Linked DNA regions of Homo sapiens: region 1 is linked to region 2. The links come from fine-mapping of genetic effects on gene expression. A gene starts in region 2. The other region holds a variant in brackets. All regions are shown on one strand. Distances are from middle to middle. Region 1 holds the start of TMEM52B (transmembrane protein 52B). Region 2 holds the start of CLEC2B (C-type lectin domain family 2 member B).

What was found. PIP is the estimated chance that this variant, and not a neighbour inherited with it, causes the effect.
Region 1: its variant is fine-mapped to the expression of CLEC2B in tibial nerve (GTEx, PIP 0.95).

What each region holds. Positions count from the first base shown.
Region 1 is chr12:10,178,459-10,188,134 of GRCh38, reverse strand. It overlaps TMEM52B (transmembrane protein 52B), which reads right to left and starts at 9,103. Exons shown (of 5, transcript NM_001384896.1): 1 at 8,507-9,103; 2 at 5,542-5,585; 3 at 2,767-2,805; 4 at 1,546-1,715. The coding sequence starts at 8,560. RefSeq lists an enhancer at 7,546-8,745. The variant G/C (reference allele first, on the strand shown) is at 3,391.
Region 2 is chr12:9,863,791-9,873,466 of GRCh38, reverse strand. It overlaps CLEC2B (C-type lectin domain family 2 member B), which reads left to right and starts at 4,113. Exons shown (of 5, transcript NM_005127.3): 1 at 4,113-4,262.

The DNA of each region.
Region 1 (9,676 bases), 310 kb before region 2:
ATATCATTCTATTTTGTTGTTGTTGTTGTTTTGAGACAGGGTCTTTCTCTGTCGCTCACCCAGGCTGGAGTGCAGTGGCACGATCTCGGCTCACTTCAACCTTTGCCTCCCGGGTTCAAGCGAGTGTCACGCCTCAGCTTCCCAAGTAGCTGGGATTGCAGGTGTGTGCCACCATGCCTGGCTAGTTTTTGTATTTTTAGTAGAGACGAGGTTTCACCATGTTGACCAGCTTGGTCTCGAACTCCTGACTTCAAGTAAGCCACCTGCCTCAGCCTCCCAAAGTTCTGGGATTACAGGCATGAGCCACTGCGCCCAGCCATCACTCTCTTTTCAAAATAAATATCCACATTTTGCCAGCTGGTGTTCTGACTGGTACTTGCTCCTCAATTTTAGGAAAGAGCATAGTCCAGGCACAGTGGCTTATGCTTGTAATCTCAGCATTTTGGGAGACAGAGGCAGGTGAATCATGAGGTCAGGAGTTTGAGACCAGCCTGGCCAACATGGTAAATTGTCTCTACCAATAATAAAAATAAACAAATAAATAAATAAAAATTTAAAAAAATATAGCCTGGTGTGGTGGTGGCTGCTTGTAATCCCAGCTACTCAGGAGGCTGAGGCATGAGAATCTCTTCAACCCAGGAGGCGGAGGTTGCAGTGAGCTGAGATTCCCACCACTGCACTCCAGCCTGGGCAACAGAGGGAGACTCCGTGTCAAAAAAAGAAAGTAACCATTTTGGCCAGGCATGGTGGCTCACGCCTGTAATCCCAGCCCTTTGTGAGGCGGAGGCAGGTGGATCACAAGGTCAGGAGTTTGAGACCAGCCTGGCCAAGATGGTGAAACCTCGTGTCTACTAAAAATACAAAAATTAGCCAGGCATGGTGCAGGTGCCTGTAATCTCAGCTACTCTGGAGTCTAAGGGAGAGAACTACTTGAACCCGGAAGGCGGAGGTTGCAGTGAGCCTGAGATTGCACCACTGCACTCCAGTCTGGGCGACAGAACAAGACTCCATCTCAAAAAAAAAAAAAAAAAAAAACCGTCATGGAAAGAATAGAACCACAGAAGAAAAGGGAAAGTGTCTTATAATCATTGAGAAAATGTTAAGGCTAAAATTTAGTGTATCAAGCCTTGAAGAATAAAGAACTGAAAGTACATGTCATTAATTTCTTTAAAAATATAAAATAGTATAGATAATAGAAAAAGTAGATTTCACAAAATCCAAGACGTTTTGAAAAAGGCATCCGTTTGGAGTTCAAAATAGTTTTTAGCAAAGTAACTATTTATAAACTGGCTAATTCTTCCTATTCAATATTTCCAATAGCCTCCAATATTTCACTTCTTTCTTTATCATGAGCCAGACAGACCCTTGAGAACACAGCTTCAGTGACAGCCCAGGTCACTGCACCATCAGGCTTCTGGGAATGGAAATTATTGTGAGTCCTGGAATCTTTAATATTACTCGATCAGTGGTTCTACACCTTTGCACCCTTTTCATTATTCCCTTAAATTGGGTCCTCCTCCCAGGTTAAAAGTTCAGTGTACTCACATGTGATAGTGCTCTGGAGAGTGCTGTCGTGATCGAAAGCAATGACGGTCACTTCACAGGGTGGTGGGCCCCCATCTTCCCCATTTTGCTGGCGGCTCAGACAGCAGCAGCGGAAGCACAGGGACGTCAGGCCACACAGGAGAAGCAGCGCGCCAATTACCACTAGCAACCTGCAAAAGCCCACGGGGCGAGTGGGAGCTCTGGGATCTGGCTTTTTTCCCAGCTCTGCTGTAACCAGTCTTTAATGTCTGTGTTTTGATTCTTGTCTAAACATTTTATAGAATAATTATAAATATTTTAATTTATAATTTTAATTTCAAGGCTTTTGCTTTATAGATACACCTCCTTATTTTGTCAGCTGCAGTAAGTCAATTCATTAGAACAAATAGTAAGACATTTAAGGTAGTTTGGGGGGCTGCTTCTTTTTTCTTTTCTGAGACAGAGTCTTGCTCTGTTGCCCAGGCTGGAGTGAAGTGGCACGATCTCAGCCTCCTGAGTAGCCAGTACTATAGGCACATGCCACCACACTCGACTAATTTTTTTTTTTTTAGACAGAGTTTTGCTCTTGTTGCCCAGGCTGAAGTGCAGTGGCACAATTTCAGCTCACCGCAACCTCTGCCTCCTGGGTTCAATCGATTCTCCTGCCTCAACCACCTGAGTAGCTGGGATTACAGGCATGTGCCACCACGCCCAGCTAATTTTGTATTTTTAGTAGAGACGGAGTTTCTCCAGGTTGGTCAGGCTGGTCTTGAACTCCTGACCTCAGATAATCCACTGTCTCGGCCTCCCAAAGTGCTAGGATTACAGGTGTGAGCCACCGCGCCCAACTTTTTTTGTATTTTTAATAGAGATGGGGGTTTCTTTATTTTGCTCAGGCTGGTCTCGAACTCCTGGCCTCAAAGTGATCTGCCTGCCTCAGCCTCCCAAAGTGTTGGGATTACAGGTGTGAGCCACCACGCCCGGCCAGGCTCTGCTTTTTAATTCACTAAAGTAATCTTCGTTGAGATATTTCTAGAACAGACTCCGAGGGAAGGACACAGTAATGGTTTGATGTTTGCGGAGGAGATGGTATTGAAAAAGGAAATCCTGACATATTGTCACATAGGTAGTGATGAAGTAATGAAATCTTACTCCATGAGATGCTAAGTAAGTAGGCAGGTTGTCATTTTTAATGGCCTTGAGGAATACAGTGTCTTTCTGGGTATTATAAGTGAAACTTACCATATATACCAGAGATGTACCCAGTCTGTGGTCAGGCAACTATAAAGAAAGAATAAAGTTTTCTACATTAAAAATATAGTCAATCCCTGTTATAACTCCAGACTCAGAAATATGAGTTACAATATGATGTGATACCTTGTTATAAATAAAGCACCATGGGTTATGTTTTTAAAATTCACTGTAGCTAGTTGAATCTTTTGCCAAATGATATGCTTTAAATAGTACTTTATACTATAGATGGCATTGTCTGAGTCATTTTGTAAATCATTATAAAACAAACTAGTGATCATTAGAAGTGTCCATAGAAAACATGTCTGTGCCTATTGCAAACATTTATGATAAAAATGACCAAGAAAGGGCCAGGTGCGGTGCCTCATGCCTGTAATCCCAGCACTTTGGGAGGCTAAGGCTGGCAGATCACGAGGTCAGGAGTTGGAGACCAGCCTGGCCAACATAGTGAAACCCCATCTCTACTAAAAATACAAAAATTAGCCGGCCGTGGTGACGCCATCTCAAAAAGAAAAAAAAAATACTAAGAAAGAACTTGGAATGCAAGTTTACAAAGAGTAACTTTGAAAATGGATGTGAAACTTAAGGCTTGTGTATATTTGAGGTCAATAAAAT[G/C]TAAACATAAAGAAAATTTCAGTTATGAGTATGAAAGTCATACAATCACATTTGTAATTTATCTTTTGCAAGCTGTTGCAACACTCCCACTGAGAATGTAGGAAAAAAAAAACTTAGTTTCTTCCTGCTATACTCTCCCAACCCTCTGACACCAGATGTGGGTGGGTGAGGATTTCCGCACACACCAGGCAAGCAATCTTCCAGCAACAGACAACAGCTGAGCGTCCTCTAATTCAATTCAATGCCAACACCACCTGCTTGGAGATAGGATCCGATCCCATAGGGTGAGGACTCAGTCCCCTAGACGGCTCCCCAGAATTCTGATGCCAATCACAATTTGTTTTGCCTGTGCTTCTGACCTACTGGTTATAAATTGGGGGTTCCCTGACTCCCTCTTGAGGTTGCGTTAATTTGTTAGAGCAGCTCACAGAACTCCGGGAAACACTTACTTACATCTACAGTTTATTACAAAGAATATTACCGAGGATGCGGATGAAGAGATGCGTAGAGCAAAGCATGTGGGAAGGGGCACGGAGCTTGCAGGTCTTCCGAGTGCACCACCCTTCAGAAACCACTGCCTGTTCAGCTTTACAGAAACTCTTCAAATCCATCCTTTGGGATTTTCATGAAAGCCTCATTATGTAGGCGTGATTGATTAAATCATTGGCCATTGATGATCAACTTAAACTTCAGCCCCTCTACTTTCCTTGGATGTTGAGGGGTGAGGCTTTAAGCATTCTGCATTGGTCCTTCCAATGACCAGCCCCATCCTAAATCTACCTAGGGGCTGCCAGCCACCAATCAACTCATTAGCATGCAAAATGATGCTACTTACTTTGGGGATTTTAGAAGTTGTATGCTAGGAGATAGGGACAAAACCAAATATATATTCTCACAATATCACACCCACCGTAAAGAGTACCCTAATTTTTCACATCCAGGATCAAAACTAATTTGCATATCCACTGAGACCAAACAGGAAGAGGGAAAAAAGTAGAAGCCAACTTTACCATGATGAAAGCTAAATAATGTTCTGAGTTCACTATGGCAATTGTAAATTTTCTCTGTAAGAATGAAAAAAAAATAGGGATTGTATGGGAGAAGGAGAAGATAAGTTCAGGAATTGGAGAATGAGGGGAGGCAAAATATTTGTGTATCTTTGAAGAGTAGTAAATTTTGTTATTTAATAATTCTTTCTGATACAGGAATCTACTGAAATCTAGTGAATCTATTTTTATTCTCTGGTCACACATTTATAGAAAATATAGTTTTGTTTTGTTTTTCACTGAACAATGACTCCTCTTGGTTTTCCCACATTTCTTACTTGTTGAAAACTCTTCTAGTTCTAATTAGACTCTGGTTTATAGGAAAGGACTCTTCCTATGGTGGAAGATGTGTAAAACCTCAGAAAGCAGGTGTCAAGTAGTCAACACCCAATTTGCATGTGACAGGTAATCAAGGCTATCACCCTTTCCCTGGGTTTAACAGACCTGGCTATTGGGAAACCCTTCCCATGGCTAAATATGTATTTTTCTTCATCCTAAACACGTTTTTATTCAAAGTGCCACTACTTTTTAAAATTTGTATTTTACAGTTCCTTTAAGTGGAATGATTCTTTTGCATTTTTATCTTCATGTCCTCTGTGTCTACATAAGACTTAAGTGTGACAGGTTTGGATTAGTTGATAACTACATCAAAGTGATAGCTAAATGAAGTCTGCCCAATAAATGTTAACATGCCCTAAAAACTAGAAAATACTTTCCCAATTTAAAGTAATAATGTTACTTTGGAAATCACCCAAATATATATGCCAGTGACTAGATACTAAACCGTCTGTCCTGGTGAGTCACTGAGGAGCAGGGCTAAGGAAGTCTTTTGCAAGTCTCTATGACTGTATAAGTTGAGATTAATCGTGCTGCTTTGATGGGAAGATTGGCTTTGGGTAAAAACATGCTGTCAGCAGTGTTATTTTGAGTGCTTAAGATGACAAAAACACGTCTTTATTTTGTGATAAGTCATCTATGAGATCTATTACTTAAGTAAAAATAAATAAAAAGAAGTCATAGATGTCTAATGACATCTTGACTCTCTTTTGGGGTAGTGATGTTTTGGTCTGTTGCTCCTTCCTCCCAGCTTGAACTCTATACTTACTGTTCAGGATTACCACAGTTTTCCTCACATCTCGTCCCAGAAAGCTGTAGAAAGAGAAATTGTCTTATACAGGGAAATTGTTTTGGCCACTGTGTTCAGCTGCTTACCAATCATCTCTCATGGTTGTGCTGTGTTAGATCAAGCAGTAAGAAGGTCACGGTCATAGGGGCAGTCTATTTAGGACTGCCATTTTCATCTCTCCCATACTTGCTGGCTTTTGTACTTGAGGTAAGGGAACCTTGAAGAACAAATATCTCATCTGTTGTGTTGATGGTGGGTGAGCATCACCCTTTGTGAATGAGAGGTAGCCATTTACATTAATTTGTTTGTAGTAGAAAATTCCTGATCTCTCTGTCCCTTGGGATATTGCCATTGTCCTCCTAATTCCTGCCCAGTTGAATTCTACACCACTGCTCTTTTTTTATCCTGTTAGTGTGACAATGACTATACAAAGGAAGAAGGGGAAAAGCGAGGGGGCCAGTGGGACAGAGAGTCTTATTTATCGAATAGCTACTAGATGCCACTCAGACTGCTAACAAGTTTTTTTTTTTTGTTTTTTTTTTTTTTTTTTTTGAGTCTTGCTCTGTCACCCAGGCTGGAGTGCAGTGGCGTGATCTTGGCTCACTGCAACCTCTACCTCCCGGGTTCAAGCAATTCTCCTGCCTCAGCCTCCCGAGTAGCTGGGACTACAGGCACGTGCCACCACGCCTGGTTAATTTTTGTATTTTTAGTAGACACAGGGTTTCACCATGTTGGCCAGGCTAGTCTCGAACACCTGACCTCAAGTGACCCACCCACCTCCGCCTCCCAAAGTGCTGTTGGGATTACAGGTGTGAGCCACCGCGCCCGGCCATGAACTCTTAATATTTCATAACATTTAATCACAATAACCCTCTTGGTGGGTATATTTAACCTTATCTTGAAAGGTTAAGGGACTAAGGCACAGGGTTTTAAGTAATGTGACCAGGCCAGGCGTGGTGGCTCACGCCTGTAATCCCAGCACTTTGGGAGGCCAAGGTGGGCAGATCATGAGGTCAGGAGTTCGAGACCAGCCTGGCCAACATGGTGAAATCCCGTCTCTACGAAAAATACAAAAATTAGCCCGGCGTGGTGATGTGCGCCTGTAATCCCAGCTACTCTGGAGGTTGAGGCAGGAGAATTGCTTAAACCCGGGCAGTGGAGGTTGCAGTGAGCCGAGATCATGCCACTGCACTCCAGCCTAGGCGAGCAAGACTCCATCTTGGAAAAAAAAAAAAGTGACCAAATGTACACACCTATTGATGCAGACAGAATTCAAATCAAACTCTATCATAGATATGTGTTGGATGAATTAATAGCACTGGGGACAAGTTTGCTCTAACAATTCCTTGACATTGCTATGAAGTCCCTTCTACTCCCTTTACAGAAAACAAAAAAACAAACAAAACTGTCCACTCTTTCTTCTACCTGATTTTTTAGTTGACTTCCTCTTTCAAAAACCCATTCAAGGCTGGGTGCAGTGGCTCACACCTGCAATCCCACCACTTTGGGAGGCCGAGGTGGGTGGATCACTTGAGGTCAGGAGTTCGAGATCAGCCTGACCAACATGGTGAAACCCCATCTCTACTAAAAAAATACAAAATTAGCCAGGCGTGGTGGTGCATGCCTGCAATCCCTGCTACTTGGGAGGCTGAGGCAAGAGAATCGCTTGAACCCAGGAGGCGGAGGTTGCAGTCAGCCAAGATCGTGCCACTGCACTCCAGCCTGGGTAACAAGGGCAAAACTCCGTTTAAAAACAACAACAACAACAACAACAAACCATTTAAGTAAACTCAATTCTAGAAGTTGCTTCTGTCTTCTAATAACCTGAGTGATCTGATATTTCAGGAAAGCAACCACAAAGGCCCTAGAAAAGAAACAGATTTGTAACTATTGGGAGTTTATGGCGGGTAGTGAAGGGGTAAGGAGACACACATTCTCAAGACCTATCAGTTGGAAAGGATCTGTAAAAGGATTAATGGCCAGCCTTTGCAGGTAACATTTGAGAAACCCGTGTTTGTGTTTTCATTGGAAAGAAATGGCCACTAACGATGAAAAAGCGTGTGTTTCCTCTACGCAACCATGGTACTTTCTTTCACTTTCTTCACTAAAGGTAAGAGAAGCCTAAAGTGCTCAGCAGAGAAAATGCTACTTTTCAGGCTTGTTGCAAAGAGAAAAGAAAGGAAAAATGAAGGGAAGACAAGGCAAAGGGAGTGAAGAGGAAGCAAAAAGAAAATATAAGAAAAAATGGATTTTCAGATACCACTTTAACTGTTCTATTAGCAAAAAAAAAAAAAAAACAAACCATACAGCCCACTCTGTACGGGGGCCATACGGGAATCTGAGACTATCCAGTTTTCTTCATTTGCTCTCCTTCTTGCTAGATGGCATAGCTCTATAAACTTCCCTGTGACAATTGTTTAGAATCCCTCAGTCCAGTGACCCTTTTCTCCACTAATGGATTACTCAGAGACTTCTGATTCATTGTGGGGCCCAAAATATTTTAAAAGAGCCCTGCCTCTCTTATTTCTAGACTAGAGGCACCTAAACTGCTAGAACAGGATTAGAAATTCCTGGATGGGAAATTCCGTTTAGGGGAATTACACACCTAGTTTTCATAATTTGTTTGGAATTTTGAGGGATGGGTGATAAGATGCTAAAAGAGATAAAATACTTCAGCGGCACTTCTAAAGTGCCACGGCAATCCTGCTCGTTTCCATGCTCACTCTAATTTCTGTCCCCCTTTTCATTGTCATTGCCATCAGTCACACATGCATCTATGCAATCTCGTAATACTAAGGAAACTTTGTAGTTTATTCATTTCCCTATGACCCCCTGGGTTCTGTATATGTCTCCCCACCCCGCAGTTCATTTCCTTTCAGACTCTTCTGAGAGTTGATTAATCTGGGGAAAAATACTCTTTCTGCCTTTTCACCACTGAACTCACCAGGATGAAATACAGCAGGGCTGAGGCCGCCACGACATGAACTCGGACTCCCATCGGGCTGAATTCCTGCTTCTTCAGAATCTTGCACTGGGCATCCGTTGCCTCCTTTCAATGCTCTGTGCCATATTTTACTTCTTGACCTAGAATTCTTAAGAAGAGAAACTTTTCTCAGGAATTTATCAGCTTTTCTCTCTCTCGTTCTCTCTGTCTCCTCCTACTCGCTCTGGCTGTTATTTTCTATGGCTTTTCCCTCTTCTTTCCTGTTTTTCTTCTTTATTCTTATTACTATTTCTATGGCCTCCACATTTACTTCCTTTTGCCTTCTTTCTTTCCGTTACACTATTAATTCTTTCTACATCTTGAAGTTTCTTTCTCCTACTGCTCCCAAAAAGGAGACATTCAAAGAGGACATATGTGTCCTCTGAATGAAGTATTTTTCTAGACAGCGATGAAAAACTTGGCTTTGAGGATGGTCAAAGGCAGATTGCTGGTGACCAAATATATTCCTTTCTTCATCAGAAAACTGGTAATATTCTTGATCCTTCACCAGAGTACTCCAGCGTGACTGTTGCAGGGTGAAAGTCACCCTGCTAATCTCCTTTCTTCTCTCTCCGTGTGACTAACAACCCCTTCTTGCTCTTTGAAACCCTCCCCTTCACTATGTTGATAATCAACTCTCCTGGTTCTGGGTCATTTATATCCCTAAGCATTGGGGTAAGACTGAGAGGTTGCCAAGTGAACAGGAAAGCCATCTCATCTTTGGAGAAAACAGACTTGAAGATGAGAAATCAAGTCGGAAGATTAGAATTTTCAGGTGTTATCAGTGACATCTTCCTCCTCCCTGACTTCACTTCCCATTGAAATAGATAACTGAGAAAGACATTTTTTTAAAACCAAATTTTAAAAAAGCAAATGTATAGGTTTCTTTCTTTCTTGCCTTTTCTTTGTTCCTTCTTTCTCTCTCTTTCTCTCTCTCTCTCTCTCTTTGGTTAAGGAGTGATGTGATTGAGAAATAAGTCTTGTCACTCAGGAAAATAAAACCTAAGGTTAGAGTAAAAACAAGCACACATGCAAAAGCATAGAATACTTTTTTTTTTTTTTTTTTTGAGACGGAGTCTTGCTCTGTCACCCAGGCTGGAGTGCAGTGGCGCAATCTCGGCTCACTGCAAA
Region 2 (9,676 bases):
TGGCTTGGGCCAAACTAGATTAGGGTAATAGTTTATACGTTTTGAGTACATGGTTGCCCTTAGCCTACTAGTAATCCACCCTTGATTTCTTTCCCGTTGTACATGTCCAGCAAAGTCAGTGGTATACAGCTGACTGTTAAATTTTCAAGGGTTCTCGAGCCAATTGTTAAACATCATTATTTTTAAAAATTATCTAAAGTAACTTTTGCACCAACAGTAAGGTGCATAAATGTGCTTTGGTCAAGAAGTAGGCTGAGGCAGACATCCAGGCCATAGTGACTTAATGAGTTTGGAGTGCAGGCATATAACTCCACTTGTTATATAACCTGTTTGTGTAAGCTCATACTTGGCTCAAATCCACTATTGTTTGGAAAAGGTATAACTGCCCTGCTGATGCTGTACAGGCGCTCTTGGGCTTGCCTTGGCTCAGCATGGCGTGGCATGGCATGACATGGCTCGCACTGGTGCCCAGAAAGAGAGTAGCACTATTGACCCTTGTAAGGGAGAGCCAGTCGCCTTGAAGGCAGGCAGAGGGGAACCAGGAACGAGCTTGTGCCCAGAGGGAAAGAGTTAAGCTGCTAATCCTGACAGAGCTGGCCTTGCAGGCCAGGGCGTGCTGCTGCAGGCGTGGCGGCGGCAGGAGTCCCAGAGCCAGAGCAGACAGCGGAGATAAAGGCAGACAGTGTGAGAGAGTCGCTGTTGGTAAATAAAACTACATTTCACCTGCTTAGGGCCCCCAAGTGTTCTTTCAGCTATCGCCCATCCACCCACTCCCCTCAGACCTCAGCATGGGCTGGAACCTAACCTGGGTCATGACATTTGGAGTCATTGTGGCCCTAATGCCAAGCTAATAAAATAAATACTTAGAACTCATCAATTTGTGATGATTTTTAGAAGATTTTGCTATTATCCATGCATGAAATTATTAACATCTGTTACATCCGTATAGTGAAAATAATACGTAATGCTGTACTACTGCATATTTATTTCCAACTCTGTGTGTTCAGTGATGTCACCTGGGTACCTTGAAATCAGCAATGGTGGGAATAATTACATCACGGAAATCAGCTGGTGTTACAAACCAGAGCTTGTTATGTGTGTGTTTTTCTCTGTTCCACCAGTTGTTAAAGGACAGCACAGAAGTGGAAGCACCCTTTTTGGCTCTCTATATTACTTCTGTGAACATTGAGCTCTATCTGACATTGCTATGGCTCTATATGTCAGTAATCCTGGCTGCTATTGCAATTTGACCCTCATTACTATAATTGGCCCCAGCTTGTTTCAGAGTGGCACTCTGACACTTGGCGTTTCCTACTTCAAACCCTGTCCCAATACTCTCTCTGAATTCAGTTCTGTGGGAACATCTCCCACTGTAATCTTTGGCATGTAGAGAAGAACTATGCTAAGCTTCTCAGTGATGTTTATGTAGGACTTAAGTTCTTCCACCAGCGCCTTCCTTACTGCTTTGGTAAATAAGGTGCCCATTATATCATCCCATAGAACATAGTCAGTTGGTGGGTTTCCTGTCCTTATCTAGTTTATCCACTGTAGCATGCCCACTTCTCTAAGCATTTTTATCTTTTCTTCAGCTACCTGCCATGGGAATTCTGGAATGTTACTCTACTCAGCGTGAGCCATTGCTTTCTCCAATCTTCTTGGAGTTATTTCAGCAGTATGTCAGCACTGTTCACAGTATTTTTCCAAGTTATTAAATTCTGTATTGCAACTGAATGCCCTAATGTTGATAAAATCTCCCTTATCCAGCTTTATGTTTCTCTCATGATCTAGCACCCTCAGAATCCAATCCCATTGTGTACACTCCAAGCTGTTGTTATTATATATTGGTTAGGTCCAAATTCATTCTGAGTATAGCCCTTTCTCTCCCTTATAAGCTTAGCACATAACCTTAGTTATTGGCCTTATGACCAATAACTAAGAAAGGCAAGTAAGGGAGGGATTCCTGTAAGGAGGGTGTGAAGGGCACAATATTTTCTTTAAGGAAAAAGGCATGACCTCGACAAGGGAGAACATGTAACTTTGTTAGGATTAGAGAGTCCAACGTTTAGAAGCTTCTAGATTTTTAAAATTTTTGAGAAAAAAAATTGTGAAAAGTCACTATACAAATGATGGAAAGTATTTTTAATACATTTATCTAAAAATGGAATTTTTCTATATTATGTTGCAACCCATTTTACTTATTTATATACACATTTTTATGTGTATGTTTCTCTACATATATATTTACATATATATAAAATCTTAAAAATCACCATAAGGAAACAAATAAATCCATAAAAATGGGAAAAATATTTAAATAGGTCATTGAAAAAAGATATATGAGTTACCAATACGCACGTGAGTAAATGCTCAATATAACATCAGAGATGTACAAATTAAAATCACATTTAGATTCTACTACACGCCTACTAGAATGGTTAAATTGAAAAAGATTGGGCATATCTAATATTGCTATTTATGTGGAGCAAATAGAACCATCCAATATTCATGTTGGGAATGGCACAACTTTTTGGAAAAAAATACATTTATAAAATAAAACATACATTTTCTATGTAACCTAGCAGTTTCACATCCAGGTATTTCTTCAAAAGATTAAAAAACGTGTCAATAGAAAAACTTTTGCATAAATGTTTATTTTGACCTTATGATATCCAAGAAGTGGAAAAAGCTCAATGTCATAATGGATACATTTTATTATAAAATAGATAAAAATATTTTATGTCTGTACAATGAAATACTACTCAGTAATAAAAAGAAATTAACTGCTGATCTGTGCAAAAACATGGATAAAACTCAAAAACATTATGCTCAGTGAAAGACATCAGACTTACAAGAATTGCCAACTGTATCATTCTGCTTAACAGGAATTTCTAAAACCAGCAAAGCTCATGTTTATTGACAGTAAGTTGGCTGCTGCCTGGCTTCAGGGGTGAGGATGAACTGCAAAGCAACAGCGGGGAACATTTCCCTGTGTTGAAAATGTTTTATATCTTAACTGTTGTATCTTGACTGTTTTCCTTTTTGGAACAAAACTAAATTTCACTCAACCATACTTGAGTAATCTCTATATTTTTCTATACATGCTTTTCTAATAGTTCTTTGGATACAATCTTTTGTTAACAACAAAGGTAGAATATATTCATTTCCTCATGAATTTTCTGTCTTTTTTTTCTGTCCAAAAATGAAAAGAGCAATTTTGTTATCTGTCCTTTCCTTCTGCCCAGAAATGATTAAACCTGTATTTCTTATTCTCTTCATATTTTCTTTGTTTTAATTCCTTTGTACTACAGTTTCTTCTCTATTCTCATTTGCTTTTCCTCTTCAAGTTTCTCTCTCAGAACAAATGCAGTGTTAATCCCGAAGCCGCTTGCGGGACACTGGCTTCTTCTCCTCAGTTTCCTCCCTAATATATTTGTTGAGGGGTAATACAAAATCACTGGGAAACTGATTAGAGCAGATTTGAAGACAAAATTGTGGCCTGGTAACTTAGCAAAAGCATAATGGTGTCATCTTGTATGCTGATGATAACGTTCTGGGCACTTTGTTACTTTCGTTTTCTTTTTTCCCTCTGTGTGTCTTTGTGTGTGTTTGTGTGTGTGCTCACACCCACACGTGTGACTTTGCACGCATTTGTCTTTGAGAGAGAGATAATAGTTTTTGTTTTTCTTTCAGTAGCCAAAGTTTAAACCATTGCTTTTTCTTTGATTCTATCGCTTTTAAGGTGATCTTTCTTAACACAGGATAAGAAAGCAGTAATGTCCTAAAGAATGCTGTTGAATTAATTAGTATCAGCCTCTCCTACAGTTCTGGAAGGATACGTGGTTAAGTACCACTCCTGGATGAATCAGAAAAACAGCCACTTGAGCAATTTCGTGTTCTGTGGTTCAGATGAGAATCCCAGTTGAGAAAGTAAGAAAATATGTGTTTATTCTTCAGCTTTAAATTGTTATATCACAAACTTCCTTCCTCCTTGGCAAGCTTTCTTTTTTGACGAGAAGAAAATTGTAATAAACAACAGTATGACTAATAGATAGTCACATGGTTACTTCCAGTTTGCAAAATGCTATTTATACTTTGAGTTACTCTTCAAAAGTGGTATACCTCTAGTTTGGAGCTGTGCTGTAAAAACAAGAGTAACATTTTTATATTAAAGTTAAATAAAGTTACAACTTTGAAGAGAGTTTCTGCAAGACATGACACAAAGCTGCTAGCAGAAAATCAAAACGCTGATTAAAAGAAGCACGGTAAGAACATTTTTGTTTGTTTAGAATGACCGTTATTTATTGAAATTGTGATGCAGAATGTTAAAGCCTTCGAGAAAAGAATTAAATTTTGTGGTTTCTTTTGTGAAACTAGAAAATTCCTTCTTATAACAAGATTGAGATTTGCATATGACTGTTTTGTCCTAATAAATTCAGACTTACTTTACATTATTTGAATTACAATGGAGAAGGATTAACCATGACTTAAAACTGCTCAAGATTTAGTTTCATTTTTACTAAGTATTTTATAAAACAAATACTTGAGAAGATGATAGATATGATCCAGATACTCATACAGTTCTCAGAATGCATACATAATATGATAAATTTAGCCAATAGTTCTAATATTTTTAAAGATTGCTTTATTGGATGGTGTAAAGATACTCCGGGCTTTAGGAGTACTTAACGGAAAGAATATATCCCTTTCCTACTCTTACTAAGGAATTGCTAGTACTCCGATATCCATGGAGATGTCTTTACCAACCCTAAGAAGGATAAGGAAAGAAAATGTTCTAAAAAATACACTATGAAACAACCTGGTAACATTGGATTTATTAAATAGCAAGTTCGGAATATATAAGATCCAAGCTACATCTTTGAGATTTCAACAGGGTTTATTTATGTCAAAATATTTGAAAGAGAAAAGGCTGAAACTAAATGCATTCAATACAACGATCTATGATTTAGAGATTTAGGGACTGTGATGAGCTTTAAGCATTTCCCGTTTAACTAAATGTCAACCTACCAGCGTATGCTACGGTCAAAAAAATTATTGCTGTGGTACAATAGAATGCACACTTTATCCTTCCTCCCGTATTTTAACCGGTTTTATAATTCTGCCTAAAGTTAGATAAAACAGGTTTGCGGGGAATGAGATCAATATTTGATGGTAGCATAAAATATCATTTTAATCAAAAGTTTTAAGAAGGCCTTCCAGCCACTAGTAAAACCAGTGTTATTTTCTACTTTCAATCAATTGTATAAATTTATACATTTGTATATAAATACATTATATAATACAATATTATATATCATATTACATATGAATATATTTTAAAAGTTACTGAATAATATATTCAGTATAATATTGTATATATTATAGATACATATATATCTGAAATTATGAACATCGTTTTAATAGCGGTAATTTAGGGCAGTGTGATATAATTCAGTCAGTTTTTATATACATTTTAACAAATATTTTATTTGCTCTGCTTATCAGTATTTTATGATTTTTTTCTATAGCTATTAGCCAAGAAAAATAATATTCTGTTTGATTTTAAATGCATTGGTCACTCTGCATCTTTCTTATCTTTCCTTAGAGAGCAGAATCAAACAGAAAACAGTTGAGTCACTGAAACTTTTCTATGGGGAAAACAATTGCAGTCCTTAACTGTTTAGATTATACATTTAAATATAGAACTATTTTAGTTACACTGTTAATTAAATCCATTGTTCTCGAACTGTCTGGGGAAGTGTCCTTTTAAGCATAGCCTCATCAAACGTTAAGAAGGCTCAACAACTTTGAAATTCATGTTTCGATATCAGCTTCATCGTGGGAGATCACAATTTTTTAATTTGTTTGAAAGGCAGCTATGCTAACCACATTCTACCAATGCCACTAATTTTTCTGATAACTCATGTAAATAATTACAGCCTCCTAAATAAGTATTGAGAATTCAGTAACAATGAAAAGATTCTGGGAAATTAAAAACAACTGAAAACAACTTATGCTGAGTGTAAAAAGCTAGATTTCAGGGTTCACGATATAGATTAAGTAGAGAATGAACACATAATAGGTTTAAATTTGTACCTACATATTCAGACATGCAATAAATGTTGAATTCATTAGTTATTTAAATAAAATTAAATGTTACTTCAAGTCTCCATCCCACTGAATGGACAGGACAGTTTACTTACTTTCTGTCATTTGGTGGTATTGAGAGTGAGAGATTTCTTCCAAGGTTATATGAAGTTTCCCAGGTTGTATAAGACACCAAAGTGTTATAATGGTCTCCATTCATCAGTTTCCACTGATTACACCTGAGAAGACCATGTTCCAATATAAATGACCTCTTCGGGTCTAGCTCTGCTATTTTGTGCTGAACTCATAACAAAAGCCACACTGTTTCTTTGCCACATTTAAAGTACGATCATCTTTTTTGAAGCTGGGGTCATCTGTACGTAAAATCTACCAACTCTGTATACACCACCAAGTCCTTATACTCTAATACCTTGCCAACTTTGCAATGGAAAGGGCTCCTATTTTCCGCTGTATCTGCAAATTGTCATTTCTCATATTGTCAGGATGTGCATTGCCCTTCTCTCTACCTGTTAGCTCGAAGTTATTTCCTCTTTTTAAAATCCCTTCACAATTTTCAGAAACATTACTTCAATAAGCTAGATTTTTTTTTAATTGAAAAGGCCATTGATTTAAGCAGCTTAGGGTTTTCTTTTCAACAGTCATTCTGGAAGAAAGAATATCAAAATGGTCTGACTACCTCCTTCAAATAACAGATATGAAATTGACTCAAAAAATACTTCCACTTGCTGCAAATGTAAATAATCTTTACACTCTTAACACACACAAAATAATTAAAATATTTAAAAACAGGACAACTATAACACAAGAAAAAAATAATAGCAAAAGTTACCTTTTATTTACTTCCTGTTGTAACTATACTTTCTAAAAACACAACACACATATGCTCTTTAAAAAAAAATAGAAGTGGTACTAGTTAATGGATGAAGAGTATAGGATCAAATGGGGGTAAGAAAATACAATTACATGCCACAAAGGTTTGATCAAGATTTTGAAATCATGATATCTCTAACATCTATATTTTTACATTATGCCAATTCATGGGGAGAAAAACGGAATGACATACTGACATATTTACTTGATTCATGGCATTGAAAACAGAGAAAAAACTTCCTGTCTTTTCGATACCTGAGGTTTAAAGAAAATTAATAAATAATTCATGATATTAATAAGGTTATATATGAAAGATAAGAAACCTCATCAGAAAGAGCTTGATTTTTTAACACTTCTTTTTTCTACTAATTTGGGGTTTGGTTTGTTCTTGCTCTTACAAATCCTTTAAGTTCATCATTAGGTTATTTATCTGAAGTCTTTTTACCTTTTTTTAAAGGCATTTATTACTATAAACTTCCTTCTTTGTACTGCTTTTCTGCATTCCACAGATTTTAGTTTATTGTGCTTCCATTTTCATTTGTTTCAAGAAATTTTTAAAATTTTCTTAATTTCAACATTGACTCTTTGGTCGTTAAGGAGCACATTATTTAATTTTCATGTTTGTGCAGTTTCTGAGGTTTCTCAAGTTATTGACTTCTAGTTTCATCCCATTGTGGTCAGAAAAGATACTTGATTAGATTTCTACTTTTTTTAATTTATTGAGACTTGTTTTTTGGCCTACAATGTGGTCTGTTCTGGAGAATGCTCCATGTACTGATAAAAATAATGAGTATTCTGCAGCAGTGCTTCTGTACGTGTCAGTTGGATATATTTGGTAAAGTGTGCAGTATAACTCCAATATTCCTTGTTGATTTCCTGTTTAGATTATCTGTCCATTACTCAGGGTGAGGAGTTAAAGTCCCCCAATATTATTGCATTGCAGTCTATCTCTCCCTTTAGATCAATGAATGTTTGCTTTATATACTTGGGAGATCTGGTGTTGGGTCCATAGATTTTTAGAACTGTCATATCCTCTTGCTGAATTGACCTCTTTAGCATTATATAGTAACCTTTGTCTCTTTTTAAAGTAGTCTTTTAAAGTTTTGTAATCTATTTTATCTGATATAAGTATAGCTGCTCCGGCTTTTTTGGTTTCTATTTGCATGGAATATCTTTGTTCATCCCCTTCACTTTCATTCTCTGTGTGTCTTTATAGGTGAAGCAGATTTCCTGTAGGCTGCATACAGTTAGGGTTTTCTCTTTACCAAGTCAGCCACTTTAACTTTATGCTTTTTTTTTTTTTTTTTTTTTGAGAGAGTCTTGCTTTATTGCCCAGGCTGGAGTGGAGTGGCATGATCTCAGATCACTGCAGCCTCCAACTCCTGGATTCAAGCGACTCTCCTGCCTCAGCCTCCTGAGTAGCCAGGATCACAGGCATACACCACCACACCAAGCTAAGTTTTGTATTTTTAGTAGAAATGTGGTTTCGTTATGTTGGACAGGCTAGTCTTGAGCTCCTGACCTCAAATGATCTGCCTGCCTTGGCCTCCCAAAATTCTGGGATTACAGGCGTGAGCCACTGCACCCGGCCTGCACTTTATGTCTTTTAATTGGAGAGTTGAGTTCATTTAAATTCCATGTTATTGTTAAGTAAGGATTTTCTGGGGCTGTTTTGTTGCTTGTTTTATGGTTGTTTTTAAATTTCTCTCTTTTTTCTTTTCTTACTGTCATTCTTTGGGGTTATATAATTTTCTCTGGTGGTATATATTAATTAGTTGCTTTTTATTTTTAATGACTCTACTATAGGTTTTGCATTGTGATTACTATGAGGCTTATAAAAAATCTTATAGATATAACAAGTTATTTTAAAGAGATAACAACTTATATCACAAAGAATAGCAACAAAGGAAAAAAACACTTTTACTCCACCCTCACACATTTTTAATTTAGTTTTCCCAATTCACATATTTTTATTGCTTACCTCTTAACTGGTTTCTGCAGTTATCATTGTTCTTGATAGATTTATCTTCCAGTCTTCATTACTAGGGATATGAGAAGATTGTGCACCACAATTACAGTATTAGAGTATTCTGGGTTTGTGCATACACTTAATTTTATCAGTGTATTTTAGATATTCAGCTGTTTTCTGTTCGTGTGTTTTTTTCTTTTTGGTTGAAGAACTCCCTTTAGCATTTCTTATAAGATATGTCTGGTGGTGGTGAATTCTCTCAGTTTTTGTTTGTCTGGGAAACATTGTCTCTTCTTCATATTTGAAGGTCAGCTTTGCAGGATATGGTATTCTTAGATGGCAGGGTTTTTTTTTTTTTTCAGCACTTAAAAAATGTCATCACTTTTCTCTTGGTCTGTATGGTTTCCACTGAGACGTCTATCATCAGATAAATTGGAGCTCCTTTAAATATTATTTGCTTCTCTTCTCTTGCTGATTTTAGGATCCTCTCTTTTTCCTTGACCTTTGAGAGTTTGATTATTCTATGCCTAGGGGTAGTCTTGTTGGGGTCGGAATCTGTTTGGTGTTCTCTGACCTTTATCTGCCTGAATCTTTATCTCTTTCTCAAGCTTTGTAATACTTTCTGTTATTATTTCTTTGAATAAGCTTTCTACCTCTTGCTCTGGTTTGACTCTCTCTTAAACACCAATAATTCTTAGATATGGTCTTTTGCAGTAATTTTCTACAAGATGT